Regions from separate parts of the Homo sapiens genome. Here region 2 is linked to region 1. The links come from fine-mapping of genetic effects on gene expression. Tissue or cell type: coronary artery. Region 1 holds a variant in brackets; the other region holds the start of a gene. All regions are shown on one strand. Distances are between the middles of the regions.

Region 1 (7,687 bases):
TTCATATTGTTCATAGTATCCAGAGGGGGAGAAAATAATATTATTTCATATATCGCAAGGTGTGTACACCCCCCTGTAATATTGTTTGTAATATTTAGAAGGGGAGAGGATGACATTACTTCCCATATCACAGGGAGTGGACATCCCCCTGTGATATTGTTTGTAATACTTAGGGAGGGAGAGGAAGATATTACTCCCCATATCGCAGAAGATGTACACCCCCCTATTATATTGTTCCTAATATGCAGGGGGGAAGGCATGATATTACTCCCCATATCACAGGGGGTGTACATCCCCTTGTGCTATTGTTCATAATATCCAGTGGGGGAGAGGATGATATTACCTCTCCGTGATATTGTTTGTAATATCCAGAGGGGGAGAAAATAATATTATTTCCTATATCACAAGGTGTGTACACCCCCCTGTAATATTGTTTGTAATATTCAGAAGGGGAGAGGATGACATTATTTCCCACATCACGGGTGGTTCACATGCCCCTGTGATATTGTCCATAATATTTATGGAGGAAATGGAAGATATTACTCCCCATATCGCAGGGGGTGTACATTCCGCTGTGATATTTTTTGTAATATCCAGGGAGGGAGAGGATTATATTACTTCGAATATCACAGGGGGTGTACACCTCCATGTGATATTGCTTGCCATATCCGGGGGGGAGAGGATGACATCAAGTTTAATATTTTAAACACCCTGTGTGTACACTCCCTGGTAATATTGTTAGTAATATCTAGGGAAAGAGAGGACAATATTAAACCCAATATTGCAGGGGGGTACACAACCCTGTGATGTTGTTCATAATATCGAGGGAGGAAGAGTATGATACTACTTCCAATATCGCAGGCAGTGTACACCACACTGCGATATTGTTCCTAATATCGAGAAGGGCAAAGGATGATATTACTCCCAATATCGAAGGTGGTGTACTCTCCCCCTTGATATTGTTTCTAATATCCAGGGGGGAGAGGATGATATTACTCCCAATATAGCAGGGGGTGTACACTTCCTTTGTGATGTTTTTTCTAATATCCAACGGGGCAGAGGATAATATTACTCCCAATGTCGCAGGGGTGTCCACCCCCCACTGTAATATCTTTCCTAATATCCAGGGGAAATGAGGATGATATTGCTCCAATATCGCAGAAGGTGTATTCCTCCCTGTAATATTTGTTCTTATGTCCAGGTGGAAGAGAAAATGACATTACTCCCAATATTGCAGGTTGTGTGCAACCTCCGTGATGCTGTTCCTAATATTCAAAGCGGGAGAGAATGACATTACTGCCAATATCACAGGGGGTGTACAACCCCCACTGTGATATTGTTCCTAATATTCAGAATGGGAGAGGATGATATTACTCCCAATATTGCAGGGGGGGTAACACCCCCTGTGATATTGTATTTAATATCCAGGTAGGGAGAGGATGATATTACTCCCAATATAGCAGAACGTGTACACCCCATCCCTGTGATATTACTCCTAATATCCATTTGAGGAGAGTATGATATTTCTCTCAATATAGCAGGGGGTGTACACTCCCCCTGTGATATTGTTCCTAATATCCGGGGGGGGAGAGGATGATATTACCTTAATATCGCAGGGGTTTTACACCCCCCTTTAATATTGTTTTTAATATCCAGCGGCAGAGAGGATGATATTACTCCCAATGTCGAAGGGGGATACACCCCTTCTGTGATATTGTTCCTAATATCCAGGGGCAGAGAGGATATTACTGCCAATATCGCAAGGAATATACAACCCTCTGTGATTTTGTTCCTAATATTCAGAGGGAAGAGGATGATATTTCTCCCAATGTCGCAGGGAGTGTATCCCCACTCCGTAATATTGTTTCTAATATTCGGGGGCGAGAGGATGATGTTACTCCCAATATCTCAAAAAGTGTACACCTCCCTGTGATAATATTACTCTTAATATCGCAGGGGGTATACACCCCCACTGTGATATTGTTCCTAAAATCCAGGCGGGGAGAGGATATTATCCCAATGTCTCAGGGGGTGTACACTTCTCTGGTAATATTGTTCCTAATATCGGGGGGGTAGAGGATAATATTACTCCCAATATCGAAGGGGGTGTACACCCTTAATGTAATATTTTTCCTAATATCGAGGGCAAAAGAGGATTATATTATTCCCAATATCGGAGGAAGTGTACAACCCCCATCATGTTGTTTCTAATATCCAAGTGGGGAGAGGATGATATTACTCCCAATATCGCGGGAGGTGTACACCCTTTCTGTGATATTTTATGTAATATCCAAAGAAGGAAAGGTTGCTTTACCCCCAATATCGCAGGGGGTGTACATACCCCCTGTGACATTGTTTTTAATATCCAGGTGGAGAGAGGATATTACTACCAATATCGTAGGGCGTGTACACACCTTCTGTGACATTGTTCCTAATATCCAGGGGGTGAGAGGATGATGTGACTGTCAATACCGCAGAAAGTGTACAGCCTCCCCCCAATGCCGTGATATTGTTCCAAGTAGGGAGAGGATGATATTACACCCAATATCGAAGAGGGTGTACACCTTCTCTGTGATATTGTTCCTAATATCCAGGTGGGGAGAGGATAATAGTACTCCCAATATTGCAGAGGGTGTACACCCCCCTTGTGATATTGGTCCTAATATCCAAGAAGAAAGAGCATGATATTATGGTCAATATCGCAGGGGGTATACACCCTCCCTGTGACATTGTTCCTAATATTTAGGTAAAGAGAAGATGATATTACTTTCAATATCGCAGGGGGGGTACATACCCCCTGTGACATTGTTCTTAATATCCAAGTGGAGAGAGGATGATATTACTCCCAATATTGCAGGGGGTGTACACCCTGCCTGTGATATTGTTTTTAATATCCAGAAGGAGAGAGGATGATATTACTCTCAATATCGCAGGAGGTGTACAACCTCCTGTGATATTGTTTCTAATATCCAGGAAAAAAGAGGATGATATTACTTTCAATATGGAAAGAGGTGTACACCCCCACATGATATTGTTCCTAATATCCTGGTGGGGAAAGGTTGATATTACTCCCAATATTGCAGGAGGTGTACACACCTCC[T/C]GTGTTAATTTTCCTAATATCCAGGGGATAGACAATGACATTACTCCCAATAACTCAGGGGGTGTACACCCCCTTTGTGATGTTGTTCCTAATATTTAGGGGTGAGAGGTTGATACTACTACCAATATCGCAGGGGGTGTACACCACCACCCCGTGATATTCTTTCCAATATCCCGGGGGAAAGAGAATGATATTACCCCCAATATTGAAGGGGGTGTACACCCCCCCAGAGATATTATTTTTAATATTCAGGAAGGAATAAGATGATATTACTGGCAATATCGCAGGGGGTGTACCCTCCGCCTGCAATATTCTTCCTAACATCCAGGTGGGGAAAGGATGATATTACTCCCAATATCGCAGAAGGTGTATACACCCCTGTGATATTGTTCCTAATAACCATGAAAAGAGAGGATGATATTACTTCCAATATAGCAGGGGTTTTACACCCCAAATGTGATATTGTTTCTAATATCCAGGAAGGGAAAATGATACTACTTTTTTTTTTTTTTTTGAGACGGAGTCTCGCTGTCGCCCCAGCTGGAGTGCAGTGGTGCGATCTCGGCTCACTGCAGGCTCCGCCCCCCTGGTTCACACCATTTTCCTGCCTCAGCCTCCCGAGTAGCTGGGACTACAGGCGCCCACCCCCTCGCCCAGCTAATTTTTTATATTTTTAGTAGAGCCGGGGTTTCACCGTGTTTACCAGAATGGTCTCAATCTCCTGACCTCGTGATCCTCCCGCCTCTGCCTCCAAAAGTGCAGGGATTACAGACGTGAGCCACCGCACCCGGCCTGAAAATGATACTACTCTTAATATCGCAGGGGGTGTACACCCCTCCTGTGATATTGTTCCTACTGTCCAGGGTGAGAGAACACGATATGACTCCCAATATTGCAGAGTATGTACACCCCCCCGAGATATTGCTCCTAATACCCAGGGAAGGAGAAGATGATATTACTCCCAAAAGCACAGAAGATGTACACCCCTCCTGTGAAATTCTTCCTAATATCAACGGGAAGAGAGGATGACACTACTCCCAATATCTCAGGCGGTGTACAACCTCATCCTCTCCCAACCTGAACATTAGGAACAATATCACAGGGAGCGTGTACACCCCATGCGATATTAGGATTAATATCCTCTCCCAAATTGGATATTAGAAACTATATCAAAGGGGGGGATATACATTCCCTGCGATATTGGGAGTAATATTATCCTCTCTTCCCATGGATATTAGGAACAATATCCCAAAGGGAGAGTACACTCCCTGTGATATTGGGAATAATATCATCCTCTCCTCCTCTGGATATTAAGAACAATATCACAGAGGGTGGTGTATACCCCCTGCAATATTGAGAGTAATATCATCCTCTCCCCTCCCAGAATATTACGAACAATATTACAGGGGGGTTTACACCCCCTGCGATATTGGAAGTAGTATCATATTCTCCCCTCCCCCCCGCATATTACAAACAATATCACAGGGGAGTGTACATTCCCTGCGATACTGGGAGTAATATTATTTTCTCCCCCCTTCCCCGGATATTATGGACAATATCACAGGGTGGTGTACACACAGGGTGTTTACCATCTTGGGATTGATATCATCCTCCTCCCCGGATATTGCGAACAATACCACAGCAGAGTGTACACCCCTGCGATATTCGGAATAATATCATCCTCTCCCCCCTGGATATTACGGACAATATCACAGGGGGGTGTACACCCCCTGTGATTTGGAAGTAATATTATCCTCTCCCCTTCTGGATATTACAAACTATAACACAGGGGCTTGTACACCCCCTGTGATATTTGCTGTAATATCATCCTCTTCCCCCTTGCATATTATGCACAATATCACAGGAGGGTGTACATTCCCTGAAATTTTGGGAGTAATATCATTCTTTTTTCCCTGGATATTACAGACAATATCACAGGGAAGTGTACACCTACTGCGATATTGGGAATAATATTACCCACTCCCCCTCTGGATACTGCGAACAATATCACAGAGTGGTGTACATCTCCTGCGGTATTGGGAGTAATATCATCCTCCCCTTGACTGGATACTACAAACAATATCACAGTGGGGTACACACCCACTGCGATATTGGGAGTAATTTCATCCTCTTCCACCCTGAATATTACGAACAATATTACAGGCGGGTGTACACCCCCTGTGATATTGGGAGTAATATTATCCTCTCTTCCCCTGGATATTATGAACCATATCACAGAGGTGTGTACACCCCTTAGATTTTAAAAGTAATGTCATCGTCTCCTTTCCTGGATATTACAAACAATATCACAGGGGAATGAATACCCAAAGCGACATTGGGAGTAATATTATCCTCTCTTCCCCTGAATACTACAAGGAATGTCACAGAGGGGTGTACCCCCGCTGAGATATTGGGAGTAATTTCATCCTCTCCCCTCTTGGATATTTCGAACAATATCACAAGACAGTGACCACCCCCTGTGATATTTGCATTTATATCATCCTCTTCACCCCTAAATATTATGAAAAATATCACAGAGGGGTGTACAACCCTTGGGATATTGGGAGTAATATTATCCTCTCCCCTCCCTGGAAATTACAAACAATATTACGGTGGTGGTGTACATCCTTTGTGATATTGAGAATAATAGAAATTTCTCCATCTTGGATATTAGGAACAATATCACAAGGGGGGCTGTACACCCCCTGCGATATTGGAAGTAATACTATTCTCTCTTCCTTTGGATGTTAGGAACAATATCACAAGGGCGTATGCACTTCCTGCGATATTAGAAGTAATATCATCCTCTCCTACCCTGGATATCAGGAACAATATGACAAAAGGAGTGTACACCTTCTGTGATATTGGGAGTAATTTCATCGTCTCCACCCCTGGATATTAGGAAAAATATCAAAAAAAAGTTTTCACCCCCTGCGATATTGGGAGTAATATCATCCTCTCCCTCCCAAGATGTTAGGAACACTATCACAGAGGGGTGTACACCCCCCGTACACTATTAAAAGTAATATCTTCCTCTCCCCCCTGGATATTAGGAAAAATATCACAGAGACCTGTACACTTCCTGCGTATTATCCACTCCCACCCTGGATATTAGCAAAAAAATCACGGGGGGGTGCACACCCCCTGCGATACTGGGAGTCGTATCATCCTCTCCCTTCCTGAATATTAAGAACAAGATTACGACGGGGGATGTAAATTCCCTGCGCTATTGAGAGTAATATCATTTTCTCCCCTCCTGGATATTAAGAACAATATCTCATAGGGGGTGTACACCCCCTGTGGTATTGGGAGTAATGTCAGCTTCTCACCTTTTGGTTATTAAGAACAATGTCACGGGGGGAGGATGTAGACCCCTGCAATATTGGGAGTAATATCCTCTCCACCCCTGGATATTAGGAACAATATCAAAGGGGGGGTGTACAACCCCTGCAATATTTGGGTAATATCATCCTTGTCCCCCCTGAATATTAGGAACAATATCACAGAGAGTTTAAACACCCCTTGTATATTGGGAGAGATATTCTCCCCTCCCCAACTGGGTATTAGGAACAATATCAAGGGGGGGTGTACACCTTCTGTGATATTGGGAGTAATATCATCTTTCTTCACTCTGGACATTATGAACAATATCACAGGGGGGTGTACACTGGCAAGTAATATCATCCTCTCCCTTCATGGGTATTAGGTACAATACCACAAGGCGTCTAGGGACACCTGAACAATCCCCAAGGGAAAGGGGGTTCAGGCCACACTTGGGATTGCCCAGGTCAAGGTGCCCAGGAACCATGGCCTCCAGGGGAAACCAAGAGTTTCAGATGAATTCAGTGCTTGAGGGCAGAACCAATGAGAAAATCTAGTCACATTTCTACAGCGCATCACCGTTAAAAAAAGGATTCTCTGTTATGCTAGGCAAGGAGGGATGATTATTTATTAGCTTCTACAGATTAGACAATGGGGTGGGGGTGGGCTCAAGGTGAGATGATTTTTTGGGTCCAAGTCTACTCAAGACAGGCATCCCAGTCTTCGGTCTCCAAATCCACCTCCTGTCTGTCCCCCCACACTGCTCCTCAGGCCTTGTGGATCCATTGACTGTGATTTCTGTGGTTCAGCTCCCACATCAGGCAGGAAGGGCAGCTACTGGGTCTGAGATCCCACATTGCCTCCAACCCTTGCTTCCTAGCTGGCCTCCCAGGGCACCACGAGGGGCTGGGCCAGGCTGCTGTGCTGCACGTGGCAGGAGTAGGGGGCTGTGTCCTGCGGGGGCACTGCCACCACCACCCAGGACTGGTAAGTGCCATTTCCATTGTGAAGAACATCTCCCCGTAACTCAGGCTCCTGCACCTCGCCGGCCCGAGTCCAGTGCACATCAATTTTCCCTGGGTAGAAGTCGTAGGCCAGGCACTTCAGTTTCTTCTTTTCTCCTGGGGCCTGGTGGCTGGTGACCACCACAGAGGGAGGATCTGTGGAGGGATAGAGTGTGACACTGCAGGCTTGAGGTGGACTTCTCCCGGCCCAGGTCTCTTCCTACCCCCACCCCTGGATGTCAGCGATCAGCAGAGCTCGAAG
Region 2 (7,687 bases), 200 kb before region 1:
TTTAAAGCTCCCTGGTGATTCCAATGTACAGCTAGTGGTTGGGAGCCACTCTCATGAGAAAGCTTCTCCAAGTTCTGGTTGGGAAGAGCAGCATTCAAAAGTCACAACAAGGTAATCATTACACTTCATGACTGTGCAAAATACTTCCCCATCTTTCCAATCGACTTGAAACTGAATGTAAACTTTGCTCAAGTTCAAGGAGACTGCAGATAATTATGCCATGCTAATCTACATGGGCTTTACATGATGTTTTTGATGCTACAGCTTTTGAACTCCAGAACTGAAGCACCCTTAAAGATCACAGATGGGCCTAATTGATTCTTTGGCCCAGAGAACAAATTAGTAAAAGATTAAACAAGCATATTCTTTTTAAAAAATACAGACCACTCAGTTAAAAGAATTATTAATACAACATTATTTTTATAGAAAATTGACTAACCTGTGTTTCTTTACAAGGTTTGAAGGAGAAGTTCTGAAGGACTCTGATTAGAGCAAGTTTCATGTTCATGAGAGCAAACCTCATGCCAATGCAGTTTCTGGGTCCACTTCCAAAGGGTGTGTATATGTAAGGATCTATGTTGTCCTTGTTCTTCTTGCTGAATCTGGTTCCACGTTGGTAGATTTTTAAAAAGTTAATGACATAATACCCCTAAGAGTTACATGTTAGGGTTTCTTACTTAGGGGCCACCCCTCAACTAGTAGTACACAGGATACTTTTGTGGGCTGGTCATTGAAATCCTGCTATGCTTATTTTGCTATGAGAATTGTAAGCTACAGATCCTTTCTACTCTCCTGACACTATAGGAGCTTTCAGTCTTGTTGAGATGAGATAAATAGTGTTGCAAAGAATACTTATTTCTAAACACTGAAATTATATTCAGGGTGGTGATGTGTCCACACTATAAAAGGCACATAAGTGATGGGACTGACTGATGGAAAAGTAGGTTCCTGCCTCAAGTCACACTTACATTGGTCATGAGGAAGGAGAAGGGGAAATTGTCTTGTACTATTTCAAAATTGTTATTTTGCACTTTCCTTCTCATCTCCTCTCTTGTTTTTCTAATTCTCCTCCTTCTCCTCCTTACCTTGTCTTCTCCCTCCTTCTCCTCCTTCTTCTTCTCTCCATCTCTCCCTCTTTCTCCCCCACACCTCCATAGAATAGTTGAAGTCAGATAATTTACACAGGCATATGATGCTACTGTACCGATGTAATGCAGTATCATCACTGCTTTCTTTGTCTATCTGTTCCAGTAAGCTATAAAATTCTTTGAAGATTAGATGCATGTTTTTTATTAAAATGTTATTCCTAAATATTTGATTATATTTATGAAAAAAATATTCATTTGGGGGACATAATAATAGCATTGTGATCATGTGTTTTTAAAAGAGTCCTTACATTTTGGACACTGATGACCCATAAGGACATAACTGATGACCTTCATCGTAAGTTGTTGGAATTGTGGATGACTGTAGTTTTCTTTTTTCTAGTCTATGGTTTGTAAAGTGTGACAATAATCAATTTGATGATTAAAAAAATCTCTAAATATAAAAATACAAGCAAATAATTATACAACCACATGACTGTCCTGTAGATTAAGAGAGGCAGAATATGCTTGAACCAGGCTGGTTCAGGGAGGGCTCCCTTCCCAGGGGCCTTGTACCTTTCAGGGAGGAACTTCTCAGGCTCTGTCCAGTACTTTGGGTCACGGTGAAGAGCATAGCTTGGAATCATCACCACCACCCCTTTGGGAATGAACATCCCATTGATCTCAACATCTTTTTTGCAGACCCTCTCAAGTCTCATAGCAATTGGGAATAATCTGAGCGTTTCATTCACCACCATGTCAAGATACTCCATCTGTAGCACAGTATCATAGGTGGGTGGTGCCTGGAAAGAACGAAACAGATTTGGATAAATTGAGATTTTGAATTAACTTTTAACTCAGTCCATGCAGTACTAATGAAGTATTAGGAGCTCCAGAGACTAACTCATACTGGTAAAGGATCGAAGCATTTATAAAGTGTTTTAATAACTGTCATGCCCATTGCTGTGCTCAGTGGCCCACTGAGATGTGTGGAGGAGTTATGAAGGTGGGAAGCATTCGGGAAGGCTCTCACCCCAGGGACTGAAATCCTTAGCATAACCGTGTATATATGTCTATATATATATACACACACACATACACACACACATATATATGTGTATATATATGTGTATACACACACTAAAAGGAGGACTTTTGTTATATACAGAAAATGTGGAGAGAAACACTATATTATATAAAATCTCCATAAATAATTTGAGGATAAACTAGTCCCTTTCTATCCCAAAAATGACAAAGAAGGTTCTGGTTGGATGTAACCAGAGAACACGATTTCAGTGCTAGTGGAAGTTATAAAGAGGATAGAACCCCACACAGCCCTGTCCTCACTTGCTGAAACAGTCTCCTAGTTGTTGCTTCAGGGCTGGACTGTAATCTCTGAAGAACATCCCTTTGTGTTCACCTCACTGCCACAGCCGGGCCAGCCCCAAAGCCGTGTCTCTTCATACCACAAAGAATCCCAATTTTGGCAGAGGTCTGAAAACAGTGTGGGTGATATGCACCTAGTATTTGGTGTTATATTTGGAAGGCAATATGATAGTGTTTTAAGACTTTAGCTCAGGAGCCAGATATCCTGGTTCCTAGCTTGGCTTCTTCACCAGTTACTGCCTGACTGGAACATGAGATAGGTGTGGGGAGAGCTGAGTCAGCCTGCACAGCACACCCAGGGCCAGGCTCCGTCAGACTACAGCCAGACCAGAGCAAGTCCTGCCAATATCAGCAGAGCTCACTATCCAACTATGATGTGTGGAGGAGTTATGAAGTGGGGAGACATTCGAGACGGCTCTCACCCCAGGGACTGAAATCCTTAGCATAACCGTGTACTGGTTTTTCTTTCTCATTGAAACAAATGTGACTAATAGGCTATGACCACTAGCATCAAATAACATATGAGAAAGTGATTGTTACCTTTCAAAAAAAAAAGTCACATGTCTGTAACCAAGAAAATAAAAAGAGATAAAAAGAGCAAATTCCTGTGTCCATATGTGGATACAGCTAAGGGGACATCACACACCACTATGGTGCCTGCTGCAAACATGTAATTCACAACCAAAACCAATGTGAAATGAGTGTGAGCAACAAATGCTTATTGTTAGATGCCACTGAGGTTTTTGGAGGTTTTTTACTTAGCATTATTGTAGTAATAGAAAGCAGATGAACCAGAGCCAGCACGTTTTACAAAGATCTTACGCTTCTGCCAGTAGCAACCATTTGCTATGTTTCTTTCTTTTTCTTTTCAGAGCCTTCCTACATAGAGTCAGTGAAAGAATCAGTGATTATGCTTTTTATAAAAATTCTCCTGGGAAGTGGTGAGGAGGCATTTTTGCTAAGGTTTCACCTCCTCCCTCCTTCTCCATGTACCATCCACTCACCTTATTGGGTAAAACTGCATCAATTTCCTCCTGCAGTTTCTGCTGGACATCAGGGTGAGTGGCCAGTTCATACATAATGAAGGAGAGAACACTGCTCGTGGTTTCATAGCCAGCAAAAATAAAGATAATTGATTGGGCCACGAGCTCCAGATCGGACAGAGCTGAAAGGAGAGGAAAGACATTTTAGGTAAATCAGATCAATGTAGGGCATCACAGTTTAGATGAAGAGAAATCTAAGTGAAGCCCTCAAATCCCTAAGGGAAAAGAATAGAAAAGCAATTCAGAGGTACACTGGGGGTGGTTTCATTCTGATGTGTATCTTACAGAACCAGAATAAGGCAAATCATTTTAATCCAGTTTTCCCCAAGGTCTTCGAGAATGTGGGCCATCCACTCCTCCTCATGCCACCCCCGCCACCTGCACAGCTGTGTAATTTCCAGAGAGAGCATTTCCGCATAACATACTCAGTGTTATGGGTGTGTTCCTTGAATGATCCTAAAAGTACTTTATTGTAAGTTAATATGAGGTAGTACTCTCCCCCAAGAAAAATGTAATTTATTTTAGCTACAATATATCTTGACAAACTTTGAGAGAATTTGCAACACTAATGGTTAAATGTAGGGAAAATCAAAGGACGTTTCCCGAAGATATGTTTGAGGGAACTTAAGGGACCAATATTGGTCTACAGACCACTTCTTGGTATTCAAAGTGTGGTCCATGGGTCAGAAGCATCTGAGAGCTCATTAGAAATGCAAAATCTCAAACCCCACCCTTGAACTACTGATTCAAAATCTGAACTTTCACAAGATGCAGTGATTTGTGTGCATAGCCTAGCTTGAGAAGCACGGATTATATCTTTGAGAGGCATCAGGTGATAGATCTAGGCTACAGTTCTCAGAATTGACTATCTCAGGATGTACAAGAATGAGAGATGGACAAAAAGCTAGATGAGTGGTAATTGATTGTAGTCTGATGGATGGCATTAAAATAGCATAAGCTCCTATGATTACAAGTTGGGCCCCTCTTGATTTTTCTCCTGAGAGAAGCTCAGGATGGTCCATCACTGGTCTGTTTGATCAGGACTGGATTAGGACCTTTAGAGACCTGGAACATAGAAATAAATATAATGCCTGCTCCAACCATGTAATTCACAACCAAAACCAATATGAAAGGAGTGTGAGAAAGGTCGACAGAGCTGTGATTTACCAGTGAAGACTTCTGTGATGCAGTTATAAGTAAATTCAACTACCTAATCATAGTATTCAGTTATCATGAACCTGATGATACTGATGTGAAATTGAACTATAATCTCAAAGTTTAGAGCTCTGCTGTCCAATATGGTAGCCACTACCCACTAGTGGCTATTTAAAATCAAATTTTATTAAATTAAACTGAAATACCATTTAAAATTGATCTTCAATGGCACTAGCCACATATCCAGTGCTCAATAGCCATATGTGTCTAGTGATTTCTATATGAAACAGTAAAACAATAGACTATTTCCTTTATCACAGCAAGTTATATTGGGATAGATAGATGAATAGTTAGATGATAGATAGATAATATATAAGTAGATAGATGATAGATGGATAAATGATAGATGATAGATGGATAGATGATAGATAGATAGATGATAGATAGATAGATAGATACATAGCTAGATAGATACATAGATAGATACATAGACATACAGACAAAAGTGGATGTAGACATGGATATATTTAAAGCAGTATGCTGGAGTAAGCCCAGTCCTGCTCTCTAGAACCAATAGTTAAATATTCAGGAATTTTGTGAGATGGTTGCCAAGTCTTGGTGGCTTGTAATTGACCATGGTCATCATTTTGCCACTGTCATAGTAATAGTGACTTCAGTAAAAAACATACATGGGTTGTAAAACTCGTAGGTGAAACATTGAAGACAAAGAGGATATTTACACGGTCTCAGAGGTTTTCCCCACAAGTTACTAATCCATTCCAAAGTGGAAAATAACTTTGCAGTAGATTAACCTGGTGAACACACTTTCAACAAGTACTGCCAGTTAAAATCACCCCTTTTGGAACAGCGTGGCTCCTGATTGGATGTTAGATGTATTAGGTAGCTGCAAAAGTTATTGTGGTTTTTGCCATTACTTTTAATTGCATTTTTTTGCAATTAAAAGTAATGGAAAAACCCACAATTAATTTTGCAGCAACCTAATAAATTTCTAGGCAGAAATTTTTATTCAGTGGATCTGAAGGAGGCTGAGAATTGGCATTTGATCTGATGTAGGTGATCCACAGACCGCAGACTGACTTTCTAGCATGCCAGGTTTGCTTAGGGTTGCCCTTTACTCTTAGAACATGGCTATCTATGCCTGCATGCCTCTAGAAAGTGCCTCCAACTACCACTTATAACATTCAAACATGTGTCGTTCTGCTATGTGGCAGAAATTCTCATCATCCTGGAATACTTCCTGCACATTTTCAGAACAAGGCCTTCCCTCTGAGTGCCCCACAAGTAGCCCTCAGAAACACTCTGGTTACCTTTGTGGGACTCAGTTTCTTTTGAATTCTGAGAGTCAATCATCAGCTGAAGGAAATCCACTCGGTGCTAGAAGCAAAAAGAGAAATTTCACTGACAGAAAGTGGCTCCTGAAGTCAGAAGTAAATCACAAGCGTGGTCCTTGATCTCCCTTCTGAGAATATGGCTCCTTGAAGACCAGAAATCTGATGCATGTTGCCTGAATCACCAGTGAAAAACATACCCTTCTAAATCCTTGGAAAGCAGGATGTTTTCCTGAAACAAATCTGGCTATCATGTGAGATGGCTCAAATTTAACACACGCTACACTTCAGCAGGTGGCCTGATAGGGACTTTCATTTGAGAATGTGTAAAATAACAGGTTTGTACTTGAAATGAGTCTTTACCAATTTATGATCTGGGGAAAGCATAATATCAGTAAAATATATTTCCAAACAGTAATGTTTATCCTCTGACAATTTATTGAAGGGAAGTAAAGTGGTAAAGTTTTATCTCAATAAAATTTATGCCGTGGCATACTAATTGTTGTGTCTGATATCAAATTTCATGTGCTGTCTCTGACTCATTCTCATATCTCCTTCCCCAAACCCCACTTTCTGCATTTCTACCAAATGAATTCTCTTGCTCTAAACATGAGCAGTCTTCATGTTAAAAGCATTCTTTAAAAACATACAGGTAACTGCACTGATCATATGTATATTATCTAAAAAATTATGAAAAACTAAACATCCTCCTATAACTACCACCACATTTTACCTTTTGTGTATCTTCGAGGCGACTTTCTTTCATCCTTTTTACAGATTTTCTTAAAAAATTTGTAACTTCTCTTGGAAACACACAGATATTTAATACTTCAAGAATTGGGATGAGGAATGGAAAGACTGCTGTAGGAAAAACAAAACAAAAACAGAAAAAGAAATTCATTGTGAATGTGCAAAATTTACCTGGAGCAATTCTAGTTTTCTCTACCAACCAGAAGAGTAAAAGACATCAAGGTTCTCAACTGGAAGCCATTCCTTCTATGACTTTTGCCCCTCTTTCAGGCCAGTGGCTGAGCAAGGGCAGGTCTATGCATAAGGAGCACCGCTACAGCAGTGAGATCAGCAGCCCCTTGTGCATCTTTTGAAGGATAAAAGGAACAAAATTCAATGCCCTAATCTCTTTGCCTTTATCTATTGGACTACAGTCTCCTAGAATAACCCAAATCATAATCTGAAGCTCAAAATTAATCTTGCTGTTCAAGAAATAGTAGGTAGTCAAGATAGAAATAACACAGCATATCTCTGTCACCTATCATGGAATAAAGATAAAATCAATAAGGGAAAGAAAATTGAGAAACTCACACATATGTGGAAGTTAAATAATAAACATTTAAGTAACCAATGAGTCAAAGTAGAAACCAAAAGGGCAAATAGAAACTGTTTTGAGGTGAACAAAAACTAAGATGTGATAGACCACAATCTCATGGGATTTAGCAAAGGAAGTGCTCAGAGGGAAAGTTACAGCTGTAATGTCTAAATTTAGAGGAACAAAAAAATCACAAATCAGTAATCTATGTTCATGCCACAACATAGTAAACGAAGAAGGGCAAACTAAGCCTGAAGCCAGCAGAAGAAAGAAAATGATACAGACTAAAGTACAAATTCATGAACTAGAGAATAAAAAACCCTGATGAATTAATATCATTTCTAT

Which allele goes with the higher level. Positions count from the first base shown, and alleles are read on the strand shown. Sizes are in standard deviations (SD) of each study's normalised expression.
In carriers of allele T in region 1, the expression in coronary artery of the gene that starts at base 3,553 in region 2 tends to be lower than with C alone (large effect, 1.1 SD a copy in GTEx).

What was found. PIP is the estimated chance that this variant, and not a neighbour inherited with it, causes the effect.
Region 2: CYP3A4-AS1 starts here. The variant in region 1 is fine-mapped to the expression of CYP3A4-AS1 in coronary artery (GTEx, PIP 0.96).

Annotation. Positions count from the first base shown.
Region 1 is chr7:99,959,706-99,967,392 of GRCh38, forward strand. It overlaps AZGP1 (alpha-2-glycoprotein 1, zinc-binding), which reads right to left. Exons shown (of 4, transcript NM_001185.4): 4 at 7,025-7,581. The coding sequence ends at 7,298. Among named protein-coding and RNA genes, the nearest start is that of AZGP1, 12 kb to the right of the region's middle. The variant T/C (reference allele first, on the strand shown) is at 3,101.
Region 2 is chr7:99,760,380-99,768,066 of GRCh38, forward strand. CYP3A4-AS1 (CYP3A4 antisense RNA 1) reads left to right here and starts at 3,553. Exons shown (of 1, transcript NR_198962.1): 1 at 3,553-6,517. CYP3A4 (cytochrome P450 family 3 subfamily A member 4) reads right to left here. Exons shown (of 13, transcript NM_017460.6): 8 at 6,752-6,879; 9 at 5,998-6,064; 10 at 3,476-3,636; 11 at 1,662-1,888; 12 at 440-602. RefSeq lists an enhancer at 3,252-3,532.